Regions from separate parts of the Homo sapiens genome. Here regions 1 and 3 are each linked to region 2. The links come from fine-mapping of genetic effects on gene expression. A gene starts in region 2. Each other region holds a variant in brackets. All regions are shown on one strand. Distances are from middle to middle.

What was found. PIP is the estimated chance that this variant, and not a neighbour inherited with it, causes the effect.
Region 1: its variant is fine-mapped to the expression of CSGALNACT2 in whole blood (TOPMed, PIP above 0.99).
Region 3: its variant is fine-mapped to the expression of CSGALNACT2 in skeletal muscle (GTEx, PIP 0.91).

Annotation. Positions count from the first base shown.
Region 1 is chr10:43,052,701-43,058,340 of GRCh38, reverse strand. No RefSeq gene overlaps it. Among named protein-coding and RNA genes, the nearest start is that of RET, 22 kb to the left of the region's middle. RefSeq lists an enhancer at 1-1,899. The variant G/A (reference allele first, on the strand shown) is at 2,563.
Region 2 is chr10:43,135,154-43,141,458 of GRCh38, reverse strand. CSGALNACT2 (chondroitin sulfate N-acetylgalactosaminyltransferase 2) reads right to left here and starts at 3,014. Exons shown (of 8, transcript NM_018590.5): 1 at 2,892-3,014. CSGALNACT2-DT (CSGALNACT2 divergent transcript) reads left to right here and starts at 3,066. Exons shown (of 1, transcript NR_186456.1): 1 at 3,066-4,635. RefSeq lists silencers at 2,478-2,547, 2,658-3,157, 3,328-3,387, 3,518-3,717.
Region 3 is chr10:43,259,907-43,266,211 of GRCh38, reverse strand. The region is part of intron 1 of RASGEF1A (RasGEF domain family member 1A); the gene reads left to right. Among named protein-coding and RNA genes, the nearest start is that of RASGEF1A, 4.0 kb to the left of the region's middle. RefSeq lists enhancers at 1-517, 6,062-6,305. The variant G/A (reference allele first, on the strand shown) is at 2,878.

The DNA of each region.
Region 1 (5,640 bases), 83 kb after region 2:
GGTGTGAGGTTTATTTCCAAGGTAGACCACAGGTTGGGCGGTGGGGGTGTGAGGGAAGAGGGCTGTTTTTGTACCTGAGAAGGTGATGGTGAGCAGGTTTTGGGTAGACCTGGAGGCTGGGGTTCACGGGTACAGCCCGGAAGGTGTATCCATCCTTGAGGTGGAGGGTGCAGAGGTGGGGCCTGGTGTCACGCGGAGTCTGTAGAGTGTGAATAGAGACGAGCACTGGGTCCCCCCACGGGAAGATGGGGGGAGGTGTGGGGGATGGAGAAGGAGGGAGGGGCCTGGCAGAGGGGTCCTGGAACTCGGGAGGATGGTGTTTCAAGAGGAGGGCTGAGCCACTGAGTCACCACTGTTGCCAAGCTCTGCCTCAGTTTAGCGAGGTGAGGTTAGTGGTCAGGTGTCACAAAGTCTCTGTGGAGGGCTTCAGTGGGGCAACCCCAGATGGGGCCACATCTCTGGAGCAGTTTTACCATCAAGAGGAGCAAACAAACAAGCAAAGCAGTCAAACACACTGTCTTAAGGACAGGGAAGTAACAGTATTTTTGGATACAGACGGGGAGGATCTGGCTAGAGAGGAAACCCGCATGAGGCAGGAGCAAGGGATGGTGGCTTGGATAGTCCCCAGGGAGGCAGGAGCAAGGGATGGCGGCTGGGACAGTCCCCAGGGAGGCAGAGGGAAATGACTGGGCTGGTGCTGGTTGGAAAATCAGAGCGTCTGGTCTTCAGGAAGTTCTAGAGGATGCAGGTGCCCCTGCAGCCTGCAATGGTCCCCTGCACACCCCGCTGCGACCTGGGGGCAGCATACGGGAGCCAGAGCTGAGCTGGGAGACTGCGCTTGGAATTTCCTGACCTGGGTGAGGTTCAGCTCCTAATCTCATATTGCATCTATCACATTATTTCATGTGGTCTGTGAGAAGCTGAAAGAGTGTGGGCTGAGAGGATTTGCAGAGGGGAGGAGAAGCCAACCCAGGACACTCTTCACTGACCCTCTGAGGTCTGGGTCGGGACCAACAATTTTGGTCACTGCCAGGGGTGCAGCCAGGTGGCAAGAGCTCTGGGCTGCAAGACCAGGCTCAGATCCAGGCAAGGGACAGCTTTTCTGAGCCTCAGTTTCCTCATCTGGAAAGTGGAGCAAGTGAGAGCCCAGCATCACAGGCTGCATGAGGCCACCATGGGCAGTGACTTCATCCAGATGAGGAGCAAGATGGGTGTGCACAGAGGGGCAACCAGGACCCACAATCACAGGTTGTACACAGAGATGGCAACCAGGACCCACAATCACAGGTTGTACACAGAGATGGCAACCAGGACCCACAGCCACTGGGTGTGCTCAGAGTGGGGCAACCAGGACCCACAGCCACTGGGTGTGCACAGAGTGGGGCAACCAGGACCCATGACCACTGAGTGTGCACAGAATGGGGCAACCAGGACACGTGACCACTGAGTGTGCACAGAGTGGGGCAACCAGGACCCATGGCCATCAGGTGTGCACGGAGTGGGGAACCAGGACCCACAGTCACCAGGTGTGCACAGAGGGGCAATGAGGACCCACATCAGGGGGTGTGCACGGAGAGGGCAACCAGGACCCACAGCTACCGGGTGTGCACAGAGGGGGTGACTAGAACCCACACCCACTGGGCTTGCACAGAGGGGGCAGCCAGGACTCACAACCACAGAGTGTGCACAGAGGGGCAACCAGGACCCACAGCCACCAGTTGTGCACAGAGGGGGCAGCCAGGAAGCATCCTACCCACCCTCTCGATTTCACCAGGAGGAACTGGGGCCCAGAGAAGGCAGTAAGTGGCTGTGGGCACCAGGCCCACTCTCTTCTCCACTGACCATGTCAGACCAGGCTGTTTCTGGGAAGCAGCAAGGGGTTTTCAGCCAGGACTTGGTATCCAGCCAGGAGTCTGGGTTTCAGCCAGGAGTTGGTATTTGTTAAAAGAGATGAAAAAGGTGAAGCTGTTATCAAGGGAAAGTATCTGGGATCTGAGTTCACTGCAGGGTCTCAGGAACTAGATACCATCAGCCAGGCCTGCATTGCGGATGTGAAGGGAAGCTGGGAGCTGTGTCTGTCACACATGGGAGCTCCCAAGCCCCCACCCCACTGCACTGCCCAGTGCTCCTGAGAGCCTGGAAGATGGAAACAGGTTGAACAATCCAGGAGGCACTGACCAGAGATGCCCTTGCTGTCAAAGCCTGGAGCTAGCAAACTGGCAGCCTCCAGCTTCCTCCAGCAACCTGGAGCTGGCAGTGGTGGCCATTTCGGCAGGGAGGTGGCTGGGGTTGGAAGCCCTGCATCCTGGTCTGCACAGGCTGTCAGGTTTGCTAAGTCCTGGAGCTCCCAGCTGCCCCCACAGATGAATTTCCCCTGCTGCTGCTTCATAATAGGTGGGACTCCATTTAATTGGACCCCTAGAGTAGGAGCGGGATAGAGACACTGGGATGGTCCCTCTGCTGAGAAAACATTTGGTGTATGCCACCAACCATTCCTCACTCAAACACATGTCACTCAAACATGGGCCATACGGATCTTCTTAATGGGATAAAGAAAATAGT[G/A]GCAAGCTCCATGAGGCTGTTTCCAACCGCCTTTCCCTTGAGATCTGCACTATTGAGGCTAAAAGTCTAAATATATTCCCAGCCTCTCTTGAACTAAGTGTGGTCAAATGACACAGTTCTGGTAAATGAGACCTAAGTGGCAGTCAGCTGGGATATTTTGAGAAGGTTTGTTTTCTTGTCAAAAGAGCCAAATGCAGCTCTTTTCTTTCCATTTCCTTTCTTCCTACATTGAAGATAGATGTGATGCCAGGCACTGGGGCAACCATATTGCAACCCTGAGGCAGAATGCATGAAAGATAGACAAAGCTCTGACGGGGTTGAACTGCTGAACCCAGGCCAGCAGCTGCCTACTGGCAGGCCTCTTGTAAATGGAGGCAAAACAAAACATTATTTGTTTAAGCTGCTATGTTTGGAACTGTTGCAGTTGAAAGCATTCCTAGCGAATACACACCACTATGGCAAACGATCAGGAATATCACACCTAAGAGTAAAACCCTGGCCTCATTCCTGTTACATTCTGAAAAAAGAGAAGGGTGTGCCCACTGTGACTTCTAGGAATAATATCACAAACAATCGTTTTGGAGAGTCTACTACATCCTAGCTACTGTCCTAGGCACTTGGCATATTTACTAATTTGACCTTTCCAACAACTGTATGGGGACATTTTACAGATGTTGAAACTGAGGCACAGAGAGGCACAGAGAGGTTGGGTAGGGGGGAAATTGCCATGTTCCAAGTTCCAAGTCAGTGAGCGGTGAGCCAGGGTGTGAATTCAGAAAGTCTGACTCCAGAATCCATCCTCCTGACCACGTGCGGATCCATCTATATGATCAGAAGTTGAGGAAGAGCAGTACAGCCCAGGTCAGGGACCTCTGGTCCTATGGCTGGTGCCACTACATCCTCTCCCCCTGTGGACCACTCAGGGGAAGCCAGTGGTGGGTAGGATCAGAGCTGGGGAGCTGGATGTTCCCAAGAGCCTGGGGATGTCCCCAAGAGCCTGCAGGGCCACTTCACAGAGAACCAAGATGGGCCAGGGCCCCACCTCTGCTCCAGGGCAGGTACAATAAACACTGCCAAGGTTTCCTCTTCCTTCTCTTCTTCCTCTGCTTCCAAGGCCGATTGATCCCACTTCTGGTGAGTACCTTTCTCTTTATTTTTAAAACTACTTTAGTATATTTCAACAGTGCTGGCCAGTTTTGTAGGCTAGAGAGCCGGCTGTCGTTTTTGGCCTATTGTCTTTTAACACTTTTAAAAAATATTACAGATAGAGGAACTATATGGCTGCTATAAAGTCTTCAAATAGTTCAGAAGTTTATGAAATAAAAACTATAATTTTCTGCTTGTATTACCAGCCTCCATACCTCTGCTCACTACCCTCTCTGAGCGATAACATTACTTGGGAGCTTGGACTTCGTCCTTCCAGAGTATTTCCTATACAAACACACTCATGTATATAAGATACATGCGCGCGCACACACACACACATTTTATTTTAAATGTATTTAAAAATCAGATTACATGTGCCACTCTATTAGTTGCTTCTTCTCCTTTAGTAATTCTTGAACTTGAACAAATCAGTCTTATTATTTTCAATGTACGCTGAGTGTCGTTTAGAAAGGGAGGGAGCTCAGTGTTTTTTTTTTTTTTTTAGCTGACCTTGATGGACACTCTGGTTGCTTCCACGGGTTGTTGTTATGCACTTGTGTGCTCCTCTTTGTCGAACAGATTCCTGCAAATGGTGTGTCTGTGTGCAGATGGGCACATGGCCACGTTTGACAAGGATGGCCAAATGCCCCTTAAACTGTTGCATCAGCTCTCTCCCCGAAGTGAGAATGAGAGCGCTCCATCCCCAGGCCTTCAGGAATTCTAGAGTAACGATGAGCACACCCAGCACTCACATCTTGGTTTCTAAATTCTGTCTCCACTAAAAGGAACCAGGGCTCCCTGGAGAAAAGTTTCCAGGGCTGGAGCAGAAAAAAAATGAGGTTAGAACATCTCACTGAAAGTAAGGAAGGACTCAGAGAACAAGGAAAGCATATTACAGGGCACAGGAACCAAGCAAAGGGGCTCCCATTGGCCCAGCTGGGACATTCTGGGCATCAGAATGAATGATAGGAATGAATTATGGCCCCTGAATAAAATAAGACTCCATGAGCTCATCATCCAATAACGATATGAAATAAAAAGATAAGGAAAAGCTTGTCCTTATAGTATAATAAAGCATCAGCTAGTAAAAGTAGGTGGAATTTAGAAAGATAATCATTTGACAATTAGAATAACTGATTCAGACAACAACCATCAGCAGATGCTAAATTTGAGGGTGAAAGTTTGTGCAGGAACACGGAATCACATAGACTCAAAGTATCTGCCCATAAAAGTCCTGGTTTGTTACAAAAGGAAAAATAATAACCTTTTAATTGAGAAGCCCAGTGAATACTGACTTCACCAAATAGTGAAAGTTGATATCATCATCAGTGATGGAATAAACTTCCACATTCATCCTGGTGTGGTGCGTCAAGGAGGGCATGGAAGTAGGTCTGCAGCATTCCTGCCAAAAATGCGTGACCTGAATCTAATCCTGAGGAGACAGTGGAAAAACCCAAATGGAGGCACAGTCTACAGCCTAAGTGGAAATCTCCCTTCCAAAATGTGAATGCTAGAGGAGAGGAAGGTGGAGGGTGTCCCAGTTTAAAGAGACCACTGGGACAGGATGATTGGATGCAAAGCGTGATCCTGGATGGAAAAAAATTATTGTCAAAGACAACATTGGGACAGCTGACAAAACTGGAATATGAATTTTGGTTAGATAACAGTATTGTATCAATGCTAACTTTCCTATTCAGTACTTGACAGATGTACCATGGCTAAGTAGGAACATGTCCTTGTCTACGGAAGATAAAGATTTAATATTTGGGAGCAAGGAGGCATGGTGAATAGAAGTAACATCGCCAAATGGTTCAAGAGAGAAATTGCATATACATGTGGAGAGAGTGGGGGAGGGACAGGGAAAAAAAAGAGAACACAGGAAGAAAAATGTGAACAGTGGTGAATCTGGGGAGATGAGGTATAGGAGTTCTT
Region 2 (6,305 bases):
TGGATCATGAGGTCAGGAGATCAAGACTATCCTGGCTAACATGGTGAAACCCGTCTCTACTAAAAATACAAAAATTAGCCGGGCATGGTGGCGGGCGCCTGTAGTCCCAGCTACTCGGGAGGCTGAGGCAGGAGAATGGCGTGAACCTGGGAGGTGGAGCTCGCAGTAAGCCGAGATGGCGCCACTGCACTCCAGCCTGGGCAACAGAGCCAGACTCCGTCTCAAAAAAAAAAAAAATTATTTGTAGAGACAGGGTCTCATTATGTTGCCTAGGCTGCTCTCAAACTCCTGGAATCCAGAGATCCTCCTGCCTCGGCCTTCCAAAGTGTTGGAATTACAGGCATGAGCCACCACACCTGGCCCTTTCCTACTTTCCATGTTTAAATATTCAAGAATCAATTGCTTTTTTTCATGGCAGCCTGTATGTGTTCAGTAGGCATAATACCTTAACAAATTTGAAGATACTAATACTTACTTTAAAGCTTTCTTTTGTCTTACATTAGCTCCACTGCTTCAGTGCCTAGTTCTGTATTTGTTTGGTCTGAAGCTTCTCTTAGATGCTACCGATTTCCCACAAATGTTTAGTGATTTTTGTTGTGTGTTCACATTATAAATGTGCTAGTAGTATCTCAGTCCATATGAAAATCACTGTACTCCTGCTGTGAATTCACATTTGTAACTAGCCCTATAATTCAATTTTACACTTATACCTAGTGCTTGTGTAGCATGACAATAACAATGTAAGTTCTTTGACTTGCAGTCCCGTGATTCTTCAATCCACTTTCAGTCATATCCTTTTGGTATTTCATTTCCTCTAAAAAACCACTAACTTGAGTAATACAGTTCTTAAGTAAATGTTATGCTAAACTTCAGAGTCAGATCCTCACCAGCTCTAACAGACTTGTCTAACAGTTAAACAAACAATGACAGTCCGACAGAAGACAGTCATAAATGTGCAATTCAAAGGGTAAATAATAACATGGTAATGAATGAATCACTTACGTCTTGAACTCATAATAGTTATGCTTTTTTAAAACCAACCTTGAATGTTATATTAGTTAAAATAACAAATTCTATTACATTAAAAAAAAGATGACTCCATGTTGGTTAAATTTTCTGCCTTTGGTTGGTAATGGTATGGTTGGTAATGACTCCATGTTGGTAATTTTCTGCTTATGCCATGACTCAGTCATTCTATAGCTGACAGAAATGCATACAGATGCTCACCAAGACATTTAATTTACAAGAATGTCCACAGTACTCTTTTTTTTTTCTTTTCTTTTTGAGACCGAGTCAGGCTCTGTCGTCCAGGCTGGAGTGCAGTGGCACGATCTCGGCTCACTGCAACCTCCACCTCCCGCCTCAGCCTCCCAAGTAGCTGGGCTTACAGGCGCCCGCCACCACGCCTGGCTAATTTTTGTATTTTTAGTAGAGATGCGGTTTCACCATGTTTGCCAGGCTGGTCTCGAACTCCTGACCAAGTGATCCACCTGCCTCGGCCTCCCCAAGCGCTGGGATAAAAGGCCTGAGCCACCACGCCAGGCCCACAGTATTCTTAATATCCAAAACACATCATATACAAAAATTGGGAACATAAATGTCCATCAACTGAAGAGTAGTCACATATTATTCAATAGACTATTACACAGTAATAATACAATACCATGAAATAGCATGGGTGTGTCCCACAAACAATATGCTGAGAATACTACGTGATTCCATTAACATGAAGCTCAAAACAGAGAAAACTAAAAGCAGATAAGAGAAGTTAGAATACAGATGGGAAAACAAGGATATAACTGACTTGGAAGAAGCACAGGAAAATAGGATGATGGAAATGTTCTATGGTTATAATTTGATATATCTGGTGGTTCCACAGGGTAATAAGTATGTAAAAATTCATTGAGCTGTACAATTAAGATTCGTGCTCTTATTGATTTCATATGTATTTTATGCCTCGACAAAAACAAAGAGAAAAATGCAGCTTCTAAACTGGTTGGAACTGTGTTTATTTAGGCCAAAATCCTCTGAGCCACAAATACTGGAAATCCATCTTTTTTCATTCTTTTAGTTACATGACAACTTTAAACAAATGGTACAAGAACAATAATACAAAATGAACGCTAACACTCAGTCCTAAAATACTTGGCTTCTTACTTCCAAGATCGAAGCTACTATTTTAATACAACATTCAAAAAACAACATTAATTACCAGACATGAAGGCCCTGCTCCCGCGAGCCTTGAATGACGGTGAAACGTCACGACATCCCATATCTATCTCAAAAGCACGCTAGAAAATACCTCCAAGTTTAACAAGCCAAGGACTCAGGAAGAGAAGCTTCAGATGTATAATCAAACTATCATACCGCCAATACCATCATCACAAACAGAAGTATCACTGTCGTGCTTCCTGCGTTGCTCAAGGGTAGAGTCATTTTTAAGGTGCATTCTCCGACAACGCCAGAGGCTCCCCATCTCCTCCGCCCCACTGAGCCCTCCACGACAGAGCATCTTTACCGGCGCTCGCTCTGCCATCTACAGATAAAGAGGGGCTGAGGGCAGAACTATTTTAACGCGATGACGAGGTCACCACTGATTAAAAAGTTTATCCACTGAGAGGAGCAGAGATGGTGATGAATAGGTAAAAACAAAACGAAACAAAACAAAACCCAACACTGACAAGCGAACCAATCGTCTCTGGCCGCGCTTTCCCTAAAACCGGTGCCGACTCCGGCAGGCTCATCCCTGAGAGACAGGGCCCCCCGCAGGACCGGTCCGCTAGGCGACCCCACCCGACCACACAGGAGCCCGCAGCCCCGGCGCCCGCACCGCCCGGGCCGGAGCCGGCGGGAGTCGCGGACCGGCGGGCGAGGCCGGGCCAGGTACTCACCGCGCTCGCCCGCTCTGCGCTCCACCGCCTCCTGCGCCGCGGGGACACCCGGGCGGCGCCTCACGCCTTGGGCCCGCCGCCGCCTCAGCCACCCACCCCCGGGCGCGCCGCCGCGCCTGAGAGGCCACTTCCGGCGCGCGCGAGGAAATGAAGCCGCCGCGCGCCCGCGGCCCCGCCCAGGAAGCTCCGCCACTGGCAGCTGGGTACCGATTCATCACCGACGTGTTTAAAGTATCCGTGTGTGTGCCTCCAAAAACCGTTTGTGGAGACAGCAGAGTGCCCGAGGCAGGAAACCGCTCCGGCCTGGAGGCGCCCCTGCCCGGACTCGTGGACTGCAGCGCTGTCCCGCTCGGAAGCCGATCCTGGGAGTCCGAGCGGGGCCGCGGGGCCTGCGTGGCAGCCGAGTCGAGGGCTTCGGGCCGCGGGGCTGTGGAGCGCCCCTTGGCGCTGGGCCGCCGGCAGCCGTGAGCGCATCACTGCATTTCCCTGGAGGAATTCCTCATCTGTTGAATGAGGGAGTTGAGGCGGACACGCTGGGAAATGGCTTCGAGCTCACACACTGATTTTCGTGAGTGGAAAGAGAAGCCCTTTCTTAGGCGTCTTCCATACCACTGCATGTTCCAGGGTCCTCCCTGGGCTCTCTGTCTCCCACGCCACCGCGAGCACGGCCTAAGCGGGCGAGCGAAGGCGCGACGGCGCCGAGAGCCGGCTGTGGTGGGTGCCGGGCGCGTCACCGCGGGCTGGCGGGGGAGGGGACGCTGGGAAGCTCTCCAGAAAGAGGAGCCGCCACCGAGCAAATTCCCATCTGCCACGCACCGCAGAGCCTCGCCCTCCGCCGCCAGCATTTTCTTTCTTTGTTCTCCTAGCCCTACAAACGCTGGGTTTCCTTTCTCATTCGTGGACTTTTTTCCCTGGATCCTTCTTACTGCTCCTACCCTGTGGCCGCACGTCTGGCAGATGCGCGGCGGGCGCTGCCTGAACCCCCGAATCCTCACAAGCCTCTGTGCAGCGGCCACGGCCCTCAGCTAGCGGCGGGGAGACTGAAGCCGCAGGGTCAGGGTTAGTTGCCACATGTTTTAAATTCCTATCCAAACTTCCATTATAATTGTTTTTATTTATTTATTCATCTATTTTTTGAGACAGGGTCCCGCTCTGTCGCCCAGGCTGGAGTGCAGTGGAGCGATCACGGTTCACTGCAGCCTCCCCACCTCCGACTCCAGCGATCCTCTCGCCTCAGCCTCCCGAGTAGCTGGGACCACAGGTGCATGCCACCATGCCCGGCTAATTGTTAATATTTTTTTTGGTAGAGATGGGGCCTCCCTCTGTTGCCTAGGCTGGCCTTGAACTCCTGGGCTCAAGCGATCTTCCAGCTTCGGCCTCCCAAAGTGCTGGCATTACAGGCGTGAGTCACCCCGCCTGGCAAGAATTGTTGTTTTGAAACTAACTGAGGTTCTCCCATCAATGGATTTAAATTGTTACTTTTTAATGATTTTTTTTTAAGTAGCCAAATACTAAATGTATGTAATTTGAATGTGGAGAGAAGATAATGCATGATTCAAATTATGTGGCTGATCATGGGTGATACACTGGGATATAGTTGTAAAATAAGTAGTTCTCCTAGGGAAAATATTAAAGTACAACTGTGTTGGGTTTAATATCAGAAAAATGTAATTAAAAACATTTCCTGCCAATAATTTCCAATCTGATACTTAAACAAAACAAAACAATAAAAGTTTCCCATCTCTTTCGGGCCTTTTAAATTTCTACCAAAAGTAAGTGATGCTGGCTGATTCCCCTGCTATAGCAAGTTGTGAATAAATAGCCTTTGCTGGTTTCCACAGTTTTCCTGGTGATCCCATGGTAAGTCTGTACTGCTTGTCCCTGAGGTCCCCAGGCTTCCACCCATTGTGCCACCCAGAGGCCCCTCATGCCTCCATGTTCTCGGCCTATCAGGTGCGCCGATGTGGTCAGCACTAGGGCTCACCTCACTCTGCGTGGAGGTCTCTGGCTATTTATTCTCAGTTTGGTACTCTGGTTTTGTTATTGATTCTCATTTGTCTGGCATCTCTAGTGGAATCAGGCCATTCTTTTTATCCCTTTTCACTGTATTTTGTGTTAGTGTTTAGTGTTGTGCTGTCAAAAAGTGCTGCTTGTCATAAGAAGGAAAACCGTAGGAAAGGACACAGGCATGGGGCTCATAAGCCTCTTGTTTGAGCCAGCCTCGCAGCTCATGATTTAGCAGTTCTCATCACACCGGCCTCTACTTGGAGAAACTTTGCTGTGGGTTTCCAGTAAAACTGAATGAGGTTCTCCTTCCGTCTCGCTTTCATGTCCTGAGAGACACAAACATTCCATTTCTCGCCAGCCTCACCAGCCAGCATTCATGGTGTTGTCTAAGTTTAAATCTCCTCCTCCAGAAAAAACTCCTGCTTCTTACATATACTCTCTAACAATTCTAATCCTTACGCCCATCTCTGAAAAGCATTAACTTCACCAAGGTTGATTTGGTGAAGATCTTATTTGGAGAACATCTAACTTGAACAAAATTGCTCATTTGAGAGATGCCTTAGAAACGAAAGAGAATAAGATTTCTTAGGCCCAATGAGCAGCCTTTTTTGATTGGTAGTCAGAGGTCTCCAAATGATATTCTGATTCAAAAAGTGCTTCCCTGAAAGACTCTGGCTAAAGCTGATGAGCGATTTGGCAAACTTAAGCAGCAACAACCTAGACTCATTTTCCTAGTAAATCCTTCTGCTTATCATCCATTTGCTTCCCTAATACAGCTCTCCCTCTTCTCCCCCTTATCCTTCTGATCTCTTCCCTTCCACACATCTGTCCACACTTCTCTTCCTCTTGTCCAGATCCCTGCCCTTTCACAACAACCCTCCTATGACCCCAGGATGCCAGCTGCCTCTCTGAAGGCCTATTCCTCCATGAGCCCCATATACAGACAACTGTGGAATTTAAACCTTAGACCCAAGCTAAATTAATAACCATAATTAAGGATTTCCCCAAACCCAGGCAAGATCAGCAACTATGCATAAAATAATTAAGAATACTTTGGTCAGGCACTATGGCTCACACCTGTAATCCCATCATTTTGGAAGGTGAATCAGTGAGGACTGCCTGAGCCTACAAGTTAGACCAGCATGAGCAACATAGTGAGATCTCCATCTCTATGGAAAAAAAAACCCAGGCATGGTGGTGTGTGCCTGTAGTCCTAGCTACTCAAGAGGCTAGATGGGAGGATCACTTGCGCCCAGGAGGTTGAGGCTGCAGTGAGCCATGATTGCACCACGGGCACTCTAGCCTTGGTGGCAGAGCAAGACCCTATCGCAAAGCGGCGGGGGGAAGCATGTGACCCAGTGTTACCTAACCCATATCAACTTGTACACATTGACCAGAACCTTGCAT
Region 3 (6,305 bases), 120 kb before region 2:
TTCTGGTCCGAGGGTCGGTGAGTGAGAGGTGGGGGCGGGAGTCCCCTGCTGTGTGTGGAGGGACGCGCTGGCAGGTTCCTGTGCCCTGCATTTCTGGCTGCCTCTGGGTGCTGGACCTGGTGGATATTTACAGAGAGGCCGCTGCCTGCCTCTTGGGAGCCACCTGGGGGCAGAGACCTGGTGGTGGCCGGGGCTCCCTCCCTCCCTGCTCAGAGCAGTGAGCTTCTCCCTGGTTCACCCTCCCCACCACTGCCACTCTTCTCCCACTGTCCTGCGCAGGAAGGGCCCCGATGGCCGTCGGCCGCAGGATCCTGAAACACAGGAGTCAGGCTGGGTGCAGGGGAGCCTCCCAGAGGCCTTGGTTCCCTCTGTCCCCCCAGGGTTCTCCCGCCCCCTCCGGATGCAGTCTTGCCAGCCCAGCCTGTCCACCTCGGTGCCCTGGACTCTAAGCGGCTCTAGGGGGCCTCCAGCCGAAAGGCTACAGGTCTTGATTCGTGAACCACGGGCAGGCTGCAGGCTTCTGAGACTCAGTTTCCCCATCTGTAGACTGACACGGTTTTGATGACCTCTGAGGACATTTCCACCCTGATGTCCAGTGACACTTTGCTTTGGAACCTCAGGACCCCAGCCCAGGAAGGGGAGATCCGGAGCAGGGGGACATGGAGGACCTTGGCTGGATGGCCAGGGACACGTGGGTGGGTTCTCTGCCCCTCCAGCCAGTGTGTGTCCTTAGGGCTGTGGGTGGTAGTGACCCAGCGAGGCGGGTGCAGCAGGCCCACACTCCCTGCTCCTGAGAAGGGCATGAGCTGTGTGGATCCCCCAGGCTCTCTAGTGAAGTAGAGAAGCTGTGTCCTCCTGCACATGCCCCTGGGTTTGTGAACCAAGCAGGTATCCCAGGTGTGCCTTGGCCTGAAGGCCAGCCAGTGAGTTTGTTTTTCTCTGGGAGGCATCTTCGAGCTGCCAGCCGGATGGCTCCCTTCCACCTGGCAAATCGTGGAAATGGAACAGTTCACACAGAGCAGAGGGGTTTTTTGGTGTAACTTAGCAACTGCAGGCAGGGGAGGAGGAGGAGGAGGGAGAAATGGCATTTGTGCTGGACAGTGGCTGCGGTGGGGAGAGCCACGCACACAGTGGCCCCCAGCGGTGGGAGGGGCCAGCCAGGGAGGAGAGCGAGTGGGCACTGGGACACAGTGTGGCCAGGAGCCCCTGAGCACGCCGGTCCCCACCTGTAGAATGATGCCAGGGGCAGGATGGGACAGCTTTGGTTGGCCTTTGGTTTTTGGCAATAGAACCGTGGGTTTCACAGAAGCCCTATTTGTCAAATAGGTCAAGTGAAGGTGCTGTGCCAAGGCAGGGATGGGGGCAGGGGGTTTGGCCCCCCCACTGTCCTCAGGAGAGGGGCTGGTGGAGGGATGCTCTTCTCTGCATGGCCCACCCCAGGGGAGGGGCGCTGGGCTGCTGGGGGTAGGTGCCAGGGGCATAGCAGATAGCAGATGGGGAGGAGACTCAAGGCATTCTCCCCCACCCCTCCCTGCTGCCCCTTGACGGACCCTCCCTCCCCTTCCCCCTTTTTCTCCTGAGGCCATCTGCTTGGGTCCGGCACTCTGGCTGCTTTTCTGTTGGAGCTTCCAATCTGCCTCCTGTAACTCCCACCCACTCCAGCCTGCCTCCCGGCTCCTCTGCCCTCCCCTGCCCACTCCCTGCTGGGGAGGATGAGTGTTTACCTAGCAAGGGTGTGATGTGCGGAGGGAGGGGACTGAAGTGGCACTGGTGGGCTGACAGCCATAGAGGAGGGCCTCTGATACCCACTGGTGGATTGCTGGGGGTGTCAGAGGCCCTCCCCTATGGCTGTCAGCCTGACCTGCGGGGGTCCAGAGAGGGCTCACTGCCCACTTTTTGGGTGTATCCCTGTCGCCACTTTTTGGGCACAGAGCCTGGGGCTGTGGGTATGTGAGAGTGGGCTCTGGGCCGGCCCAGAGTGGCGAGCTGCCAGGAACCCATGCAGAATGTCCCTGCGCGCTGGGACACCAGGAATTCCCCAGCTAGCAGCCCGGGAGCAGGGTTTGGGAAGGTCAGCTGGTATGGCCAGCAGTGGCTTGGCGGGCACTGTGTGAAGGGAAGCCCGAAAGCCCCTCGGGGTCCTGGCCTGCTCAGAGTGGGAGAGGGGCTCTGGCCTCAGGGCTCACCACCTGGGACAGGCTGGTAGAGGCTGCTCCAGGCACCATGACAGAGGGCTGTGAGGGGTGACCGGCCAGGAGTGGACAGGTGTGAGGACTCAAGCGGGGCCTGTGCTGTGATGGACGGGGTGGGGGTGTGACTGCTGCTGTGGCCACCCCTGCCCGGTGGACCATGGAGAGGGAAGCCAGGCAGGGAGAGTAGTCCGGTTGTCCCGGCTCTGCTGCAGCACCTCCCAGGAAGCACATGGGTGCCTTTGGGCACAACTCAGGACGACACCCAGTGATCCTGTTCTGGGAAGCTTCTCCCCACCTGTGGTTGCCCGCCCTGCCCTGGGCACTGCCCGGGCTGGGGTAGGGGCTGAGCTGCCGGCCTGTGCTGCCCAGGGCAGCCAGCAGGGGCTCCGAGACCTGCTTGTCTCTTGTGAGCTGGCTGTGGGGTTCTTTGTGAATTCAGGGAGCAGAGGCCAGCACCAGCTTGAAGAAGAGAGGCCTGGGCTGGGACTCTAGACAGAACAGCCCAGGGTGGGCACTTCATACGTGGGATGCAAAGATGTGGCTGTCCGGTTGACAGGTGCTTTTCCTTTTTTAAAAACAACGAAACTTGCTCAGCCGTCCGCACCCTGGTCGCCTGTGCGGGCTGACTTTGAAGACATGTTCTCTGCTCACTCTGAATCCTCACTTCCCACTCACTCCCACCCAC[G/A]CCAATCTGCACACACCTCCTTCAGTCCAGGGATGTCTTCTTGAGAGGCCGTGGATGTCCACTGCCTTGTTCCCAGACACCCATTTCCTGGGCTTGGCCGGCCCCTGGTTCTCCTCCTCCCATCCTGGGACACTCAAAGTCCCTGTTCCTCAAGACCTGGGCTCAAACCCTCTACCCAGCCACAGCATCTGTTCCCTCCTCCGTGCTGATCCGGTTCCAGCTCTCATCAGCCCCCACCTGTCCTCTGGGTTCTGTCAGTGTGTGAGCCTGCTGGACGCCTCCCGGGTGACGATGCACATCATCACGCCCCTGAACCTTGCCTGCCCCAGGTTCCCCATCTGAGCAGGTAGGCAGCTGGCTCTCCCTCACCCCCTCTGCCAGCTTCCCTTTGCCTGGAGTTGTCAGCCAGTCTAGCACACCCCACTCTAGACCTCTCTTCTGCCCCTTCTGCCTCTCCCTGCTCACTGCCACCTCTGTGGGCCGGGCCACCATCCCCTGGCCAGGACATTTGCAGTGGCCTCCTTACCCAGCAGTCTGTTCCCCTACTCAGGGCATGGCTTCTGCTGGGTCTCCCTCCTGCCAGGAGGCTCCCAGCCTTCCTTGGGTGCCTTCCTGAACTTTCCTGCTGTGCAGGGGGCCCGGGGCTGCTCTGCAGCAGCCGCCTTGGGTGTACTTGTCTATGATCCCCTGGGGTCTAGTCTGCACCAGGCCTGTTGGAGCCCAGCCACGAGACAGTGGCTATGCTGGCAGATTCAGCGAACATCCGTGGGAGGTGCATGGAAGTGCCTGAGCCACCGTGCATGGTGTGGCAGAGGTGCCTGGCCTGGGCCACGTTGCTGCACCCACGCCAGGGAGAGGAGAGGAGAGGGAAGCAGACCTGAGAGCTCTGGGACAGTCTGGGGGGCTGGTGTCTGGGGTCCTGGACCAGGAAGGAATCCTGGGGGGTGGGGCTGGGAGGCCAGCACCCTGTTTGTTGTCACCACCACTTCTGTTTCTCCAAGTGTCACCCTCAGACTCTACCTTGAAGAGAGAGTTCTCCCTGGATCTGGTTGCCATGGCAACGCTGTTAACAAAGAGTAGCTTCCGTGGAGGAGGCTGGCGGGAGCTGGGAGAGGAGAGGGGGCGCGTTCTGATGGTTTATCAGCAGGGCTTGTTTCCCCACCCCCACCAAGGCTGCCCAAATCTGGTGGACCCTCCCCCACTCTCTCTGCCCATGGGGCTCTCCAGGTCTCTGGTACCCAGACCCGCCAAATGTGAATGTCAGGCAGCCTTGAGTGCATCCGGGTGTGTCCTGGACCCCAGCCACAGCTGGGGCACTGGGGCAGGCCTCCTCCTTGGGGCCTGGGGAGACATGCCCAGCCACAGCACCAGGTACTTCCCAGGATGAGGATCTGCACTTTGTCCCTGTACAGACGCAGACTCCAAGGTCCAGATTTCTCCTGCCTGGACTTCTCTGTAGGCTAGTTCTGTGCCCAGCTTTTTCTGGCCGGTGCTCTGAGCATGCCCTGTGAGCCCTGCTTCTCCCAGGGCTGTGGTCTGGATGAAGGTAATGTGCAGCCCCGAGCCAGGCTCTGGGTGAGAGCTGGGCAGCCCCGGCTTTGCTGGCTGAGGAGAGGAGGGTTGGCCCCAGTTGCTAGGACCCAAGCCTCTGCCCTCAGAGCTGGGGGAGGAAGGGTGGGCTGGAGGCAGGGTGAGTGGACCAGCTGGGAGGATGGGGCTTGGATGAGGTTGGGAGTTCTGGGGGTGCCCTGATGCTTTCATGAGTTAATTACTCAGAGCAGGCAGGGGGCTGCATCAATTATTCATTTTATTATTGCTGTTAGCAGTGGGTGGCTGGATGAGGAGTGGAGTCCCCCACTGGCGAGGCCAGGCCAGGTGAGCATTGGTGGCACCTGGGAGAGCCCAAGTCCTGCCCACACTGTCCATTGCAGGCAGGGCCCTTCCTGCTCAGCCCCGCTACGGGGACAGGGCCTTCTATGCCCCGTGCCCCTTCCTCCTCTGGCCTAGGTGTTTCTGGGAGCTGGGCTTACCTTGACCAAGCTGGAGTGAGTTAGACCTGCTGTGAGGTGACCTGCAGGTACCTGGGCCAGATCAACTGCCCTGCGGGGAGTGGTGGTGGTGGAGAGGGCTGATAGTAAACTGTGCTGGCAAGTATGGCCAGGGGTCCCAGCTGTTCTTCATGGAAAGGCCACGGCAGCCAGAACCACTTCCCAGAGGGGGCGGGGCCGAGGGGGAGGGCGCTCCCACATGGGTGGGGCCTGGAGGGGAGACCCACAGCTGCGGTCACCAGGCACCCACCAAGCCTGGTGGGTGCGCACAGGCTGAGCAGTCAGTGCTGGCTCGGAGATGCCCGCACAAATGTCAAAGAAGCTGCTATTCGGGCCAAGTGTTCCGACTACAGTGCAATTAAGAGAGAAAGTGATAACAAAATAGATAACTCTAAAAGAGTTGTATATTTAGAAAATTTGAAACACATGTTTGAATGATGGGTCAAAGAAACAATGGAATAGAAAGTTTGGGGTTAAATGATAAAAATAGAATGCTGAGCGCTGTGGATCACGGCCGTCGAGGGCTACATGCCCTGCTGCCTGCTGACGTCTGGAGAGCCCAGTTGTACAGGAGAAGTCCACACCCAGGTGCCTTCCTTGGCTCCCGCAGTGGGAAAGGTGGGAGGGGGCGGGACAGTGGCCAGGCCTCCTATGGGCACGGGAGTCTGCCTGCTGGGGTCCTGAGAGGGGGGCGGACCCTAGCTTCTCCGTGGGGTCTGGGTCTGGGGAGCCACTTGGCCCTGCCCGTGGGGACCAGGGTTCCACAGTGGCTCTCTGGCCTGCCATAGCACCCAGGGTTGGACTCCAGGGCAGCACAGTGTTCTCAGCCCTGGGCAGGACGCCAGATGCATCCGGTGGTGCACCGAGTGCAGAGCTGTCTTATGTGAGGCAACCGGGGACGCTGTCAGGGGAAGACACAGGAGGGGATCTCCAGGACAGCACCAGTGCCAGGCAGGGCCCAGGTTGCAGAGTGGAGAGGAAGGAGCAGCAGGTGTGGGGAGGCTGGTGCCCTCGGTCCACCCTGCCGGTGCCCAGGCCTGGGTGTGGTGTACAGTCATGTGCCTGGGGGCTCTGGGTGTACACATTCATTCTGGGTGTGTGCATTTATACCCAGATGCTGGGAGGGCCCCTGACCAGCCTACTGTCCAAGGGCTCTGCTGGGCGTTTCACTGACATGTGACTTAATGTGCCTCTTTTTGATGCCAGCATCATTACACTGATTTTGCCAGTGAGCCTCTGGGGTCTGCAGAGAGGGGCAGAGGCAGAGGTTGAGGCCAGGTCGCTCCCGTGCTCTAGGGAGCATGTTAGCAGGTGGTGTGGTTCTCTGGTGCCTCCCTTCATCTCTCCGAGCCTTCCTGCCGTCCCCGCCCTGCCCCTCCG